Linked DNA regions of Homo sapiens: region 2 is linked to region 1. Evidence: fine-mapped expression QTL. Tissue or cell type: skeletal muscle. Region 1 holds a variant in brackets; the other region holds the start of a gene. All regions are shown on one strand. Distances are between the middles of the regions.

Region 1 (2,892 bases):
TGGAGGACGCACCGTGGGTGCCAGCAGGCCGGTTGAAGGCAGGAAAGAGCAGCGCCCAGGCTCGGCAGTCCCAGGTTTGCACCCAGAGCTGCGGCTCATCAGTGGGCCTGGGCTGCTGCGTAATCTCCCCGTGTCTATTTCTGTAAGACGGAGGTCACACAGCACCCTGTGGGGTGAGGGTTTCCCTGAAAGATCCTTCCGAAGACAAGACCTCACCTTGCCTTAGAATCCTGGCAGCGTCTCTGGAGTTAGGCACTTGGTTTAGAACAACAAGAACTGTGTCCGAGAGACACAGCACCCCGGAGTCACCATGGTCTTTATTGACCCAACAACACTGGTGAAGGCAAAAGATGGTGCTCAGGTTTCCAGATGCTTCCTGGAGTAGGGCCTGACAATCACAGGGGTTAAGCATCATGGTTTATAAGCTACTCAGAGATCACTTTATAAAACAATCCAGGGACCAGGTGCAGTGGCTCACACCTGTAATCCCAGCACGTTGGGAGCCCGAGGCAGATGGATCACTTGAGGTCAGGAGTTCAAGATCATTCTGGCCAACATGGTGAAACCCTGTCTCAACTAGAAAAAAACAAAACAAAAAACAAAACAAAACACACACACACACACACACACAAAATTAGCCAGGCATGGTGGTGCTTGCCTGTAATCCCAGCTACTCAGGAGGCTGAGGCAGAATTGCTTGAACCCAAGAGGTGGAGGTTGCAGTGAGCCGGGATTGCACGACTGCACTCCAGTCTGGGCGACAGAGCAAGAGCCTGTCTCAAAAAAAATAATAATAAAAATAAAAATAATTTTAAAAATTAAGAATTAAAAAACCATATAGGAAGTGTGCAAGGTGGTTGCCTGTGAAAAATCCCCTGCTCAGGTGAGTCCATGGGTCCTTTTGCCTTCTGGACACAGAGGCCAGCACATACCCAGGGAGAGGAGGGCCCAGGGATGGACCCCAGGACAAAGGGTCCAGGGGAGCAAGTTGGGCCATTTAACAAATAGCATTGGGGCCAAGGAGCAGCCTTTGGAAGAAGATGAAACTGGTTCCACACTTCACACTATCAAAGCCAGGGCATGGACAGCCCCAGGGTAAACAGACAGACTTTGCAAGAACCAAGAGAAGCAGGGATCACGTTGGGGAAGGCGGCCCTAACTCCAACCCCGAAGCCACAAGCATCACAAGGATGATAGATAACCCTGACTACACTCAAACACACACACAGACACACACACAACACATAACCAACATCAGGAGACAAATGACAGACTAGACAATATGTGCACCTCAGACCACAGAATCACAAAGGCTGACTTTCCACACATAGAAAGAACTCCCAAAATTTGAGAAAGTAAGACCAACAACTGAATAGAAAACAATAGGCAGAAGATAGGAACTGAAAGTTCACAGAAAACAGAGTCAGTCCTCCCCGCTGCCCTGAATGATGGCTCCCTTCCACCTCACCCCCCTGAGGATGGAAACAGAGGCAAAATTACTCACTGGCCAGGCCTTATAGGAGGCTGGACCAGGAGCTGACCCAATTCCTCTGCCTCCCGGTCCCCCTTGAGCACTAGGAACTGTCTGCTGTCCCAAATCGCAGGCTCAGCTGATCTCCAAGCTTCAACTGCTGTCCTAGACCCTTCTCCATGTTGGGCTGTGCTCATCTTGTAGACTCTGGGTTGGAAGCCCAGTGGCCCGGGGAAATTGCTGGTGTCTCAGAGCCTGACTTTTTTCCATCTAGCATGGGGCATGACGCCTCTTCAACGGGGCG[G/A]TGAGGTCCAAGGGTTGCCGGGGGCGTGGCATCCAGGTATTATCTGCTCCAAGCCACCACTTCCTTTCTTTCTTCCTTCCTTCCTTCCTTCCTTTCTTTCTTTCTTTCTTTCTTTCTTTCTTTCTTTGTTTCTTTCTTTCTTTCTTCTTTCTTTCTTTCCTTTTTCTTTCTTTCCTTTTTCTTTCTTTCTTCTTTCTTTTCTTCCTTTCTCTTTCTTTCTTTCTTTCTTCCTTCCTTCCTTCCTTCCTTCCTTTCTTCCCTTCCCCTGCCCCTTCCTTCCTTCCTTCCTTCCTTCTTTCCTTCCTTCCTTCCTTCCTTCCTTCCTTCCTTCCTTCCTTCCTTCCTTCCTTCCTTCCTCTCTCTCTCTCGCTTGTTTGCTTGCTTGCTTGCTGTCTTGCCCAGGCTGGAGTGTAGTGGTGCGATCTCAGCTCACTGCAAACTTCACCTCCCGGGTTCAACCAATTCTCCTGCCTCAGCCTCCCGAGTAGCTGGGATTACAGGCATACCGCACCACGCCCGGCTAATTTTTGTATTTTTAGTACAGACCAGGTTTCACCATGTTGGTCAGGCTGGTCTCGAGCTCCTGACCTTGTGATCTGCCCGCCTCAGCCTCCCAAAGTGCTGGGATTACAGGCATGAGCCATTGTGCCTAGCCCACTTGCTGCTTTCAAAGGGAATTAGGTGAAATGTTCCAATAAAAAACATTTTCACACTCCACAGCTTTATGGACTACGACTAGATGACCTAAGGGTTTCTGGGTTGAAGAGTCCCTCGGGCTGAGACAATGGGCCCGTTTGTGCTCAGTACCTGCCCCGACGTCACCTGGCTTGCTGACTGTTGGCTGTTCCAGAGTGTTCAGCTATGGAAATAACAGTGCCTTTCATTTCTGGATCCCTTCCAAGAACAGAGCTGGGCACTGGCTGTCCACCCAGCACTTCCCAAGGATTGTTGAGACAGAGCACCTCACCCAGAGCCGCCTACCCAGAGCCAACCCCTCCTGCTCACTGGTTCAGAGAGCAGAGCCGCCCACATCTTCTGTTTCCCCCACCAAGTGCTACCTGAGCACCTGCAGCTCTGACAGGGCCAGGGGAGGATTCGATGGGGAGCTGTGGGACCA
Region 2 (2,892 bases), 38 kb after region 1:
GCGGTTTCAGCTCAGCCTCGCTCAGCCATCTAAGTCAGCTCTGCCCAGAAGCAGCCCCGGCCACGGTTCCCCTCCCGCTAGGCTCGAGAGGGAGACGCGATTTCAATTTCAGAGGCCAGGAGGGAGGGGTGCGCGCAGAAGACGAAGGCAAAGGCGAGGGGGTGAGCGCCCAAGGGCAGGCTCCCAGGGGCCCCACCCAAGCCCCTCGGCACCGTCCTCGGAGGAGAAGGAACAAACCCTCCTATGGACTGGGGAGGAAAGGGCGCCTTGGGACTTTGGGAATGCAGGCGCGGGCAGGAGCTCCGGAGCCCACCGGCTGGGGCCCCACTCCCAGCCCGGTCCGGCCAGTCTGGCTTTTACAAACTAGGGCGGGCTCAGTCCCCGCTGGACCGAGCCCAGACTAGGGTCTAGCGGCGGCTCCACCCCTCACTCGCTGAGTGTGACCTTGGACAAGTCCCCAAGTCCCCAGCCTTAGTTTCCTAACCTTTTCAATGGGGGGCTCATGATTACTGACCCAGGACTCCAAGCCTCCGAGAACCCACCAAGCTCCCCCGGCCCCGCGGCGAGGGGCCCAGACGAAGGAAACGCCGCCCCAGGGGCGCGCGGGCGGAGATGGAGTGGCCCAGGCTGGGGGAGCGGGGAGCAGGGTCGCCACCGCTGCGCCGGCCCGCGACGCCTGCCCTTGCCCGCCCTGCTCCCCGCCGCCTCCCTGGGCGACTCGGGTCCCGCGCGGCGCCCGCCCAGCCCGGGGCTCCGGACCGAGGAGGGGGAGGAGGAGGAGGAGGAGGAGCCGCGCCAAGGCGGCCGGCGGGCGCACTTACGCCGGTGCTGCGGTCCAGCGTCCCGCCGCCGGCCGCCGAGAGCTTGGTGGTGTTGAGGCCCACCAGCGAGGGCAGCGTCTGGGACATCCAGTTAGTGATCATGGCCATGGTGCTCAGCACGACCCCGATCTTGAGCAGCGGCACCGACATCGCGCCTCGAGCTGCCTCCAGCGCCCGCTCCGAGCTGGCACCGGCTCCCGCGCCCAGGCGGCCTTCAGGCGGCGGGCACCGCGGCGGGCAGGGGCGCCTGGCTGTGTCCCCGCGCCCCCTCGGCCCGCCGCCGCCCGCCCGCCGCCGCCGCCGCCCCGCGCGCCCCGGCCATCGCCGCGCCTTCCCCGGGCGCCAGGGAAGGTGGCCAGGTGGCCTCTGCCCGCCGCGCCCTGCGCCTCGCGCCGCCCGCCCTGCGCCCTGCCTTGCCCGGCTGCGTCCCTCCGGGCTCCTCCGCCGCCACCGGGAAGCGCCGTCCGGCTCTGAGCGCTGCGCGGGCTGCGCGCGGGGGCCGCGGCCGGGAGGCGGGGCTCGGCCGGGCGGGACCGACGCAATCCGCCCAGGAAATGGGTGGATTTTTCCTCTCGCTCGGCTCCCCGCCGCCCCCTGGCTGCTGGCAGCGAGGTCTGCAAACTCCAGTCCGCCCAGGAGTTGGGATCAGGGTGACATGAGGAGACGGACACACCACCACCCCCAGATCATAAAATACCCGGCGGCGGCGCGGGGACTCCAGCTGGGGGCACGGCCCGCGGCCCTCCCGTCCCGGGGCTTCTCCCATCCTCACGCCGGGGCATCCCTCTCCGATCCCCGCAGAGGGTCCGCTTTGGGGCAAAGGTTGCCGGCAGAGAGACGGCGCCGTCCTGCCTACTGGAGCCCTTTTCCGCGGTGATTCGAGGGTCCCAGCCAGCCTGGGCCGTCGCCTGAAACCCAGCAGGCAGGGCAGGCTCCGAAAAGCAGCCAGACTCGCGAGGGCCTCCAGCGCCAGGGGGGCGTCGGGGCATCGGTGGAGAGCTAAAGGCGCCCCTGCGATCCCAGGGCAGCCGCGGTGCCCTAAGGCCTTGCTTGGGAGGAAGGGAGCCAACCGGCACTCCTGACACCTGCACAGCAAGGCGGGGGCTGGGGTGGTCTGCCGTGGCCCGCGGTGCGCAGTGAGGGCCCTGGGAGGGCGCACACCCGGCAGGAGCTGCATAAGGTCTGGGGCTCAGGCCTGGACCTCAGGAGCTGAAGGGACCACGCCCATGAACCTGGTGTTGGGGAGGTGGGTGTGTGGGGCGGGGACTGGGGTCTGTGGTGGAGGGGTGTGGGTTGGGGGGTGTCCTTACTGACTCAGGGGTGGCGCTCGAGTCATGGCGCCCAGGCACAGAGGCAGGGCAAGTGGCGCACGCTGCCCCTCTTCCCGGCCCTCTGCGGCGACCGCAGCAGGACTCACGCGTGTCAGTCCCACCTGAAGCGCAGGCCTGACTGGGTCAAACACGTTAATAGGGCTTTTGCATTTACAGAAGGCTTCTAATCGGAGATGAAAGCCACTTCCTCCGGGGCCTTCCATTAAGCTTTCCCAGCCATTTGGGAAGGAAAGAATCCTCCAGATCACTCACTACACTCTTCTCTGCCTGGGCGAAAATTAATCTCCCTTCCTGGATGGGATTTGAAAGACGGACGCCGGGCCGGAAGGAGCGCGCCTCCCTGGCGCCCGCCTGAGAGGAACAACGCCTTCCTGGGGCTTTTCTCTCTGTGTGCGCAGTCCTCGGCTGAAGAGACTTCAGCTGCAGCCAAGATGATCCTGGCCTGAGTGCTGGGTGTGAGACCCGCTAGTTAAATGAGCCCCTCAGATCTGCTTTTCTGATTAATGCTGTAATCTCAGGCAGCCGGGCTGGGTCGGATGCCAGGAAATTCCAACTGTTGGGGAAGGGCGCCATCTCCCAGTGTAAGCTGGGACTGCAGGCCCGGCTCACAGACTGGGCCCAGGCGGAGACACAAGTCCGGTTGGGCTGGCTTCGCCCCCCTCCTCTGGCCATGCATGTTTAACACCGATTCAAGGCCACAAGCCGTGTCTGTCCAGATCACTCACGCCGCTTCCCGCTGC

Evidence for each region. PIP is the estimated chance that this variant, and not a neighbour inherited with it, causes the effect.
Region 2: it holds the start of OLFM1, and the variant in region 1 is fine-mapped to the expression of OLFM1 in skeletal muscle (GTEx, PIP 0.92).

The regions. Positions count from the first base shown.
Region 1 is chr9:135,123,714-135,126,605 of GRCh38, reverse strand. No RefSeq gene overlaps it. Among named protein-coding and RNA genes, the nearest start is that of OLFM1, 37 kb to the right of the region's middle. RefSeq lists an enhancer at 1-470. The variant G/A (reference allele first, on the strand shown) is at 1,776.
Region 2 is chr9:135,086,069-135,088,960 of GRCh38, reverse strand. OLFM1 (olfactomedin 1) reads right to left here and starts at 1,293. Exons shown (of 6, transcript NM_001282611.2): 1 at 822-1,293. The coding sequence starts at 971. RefSeq lists enhancers at 1-637, 1,272-2,132, 2,133-2,892.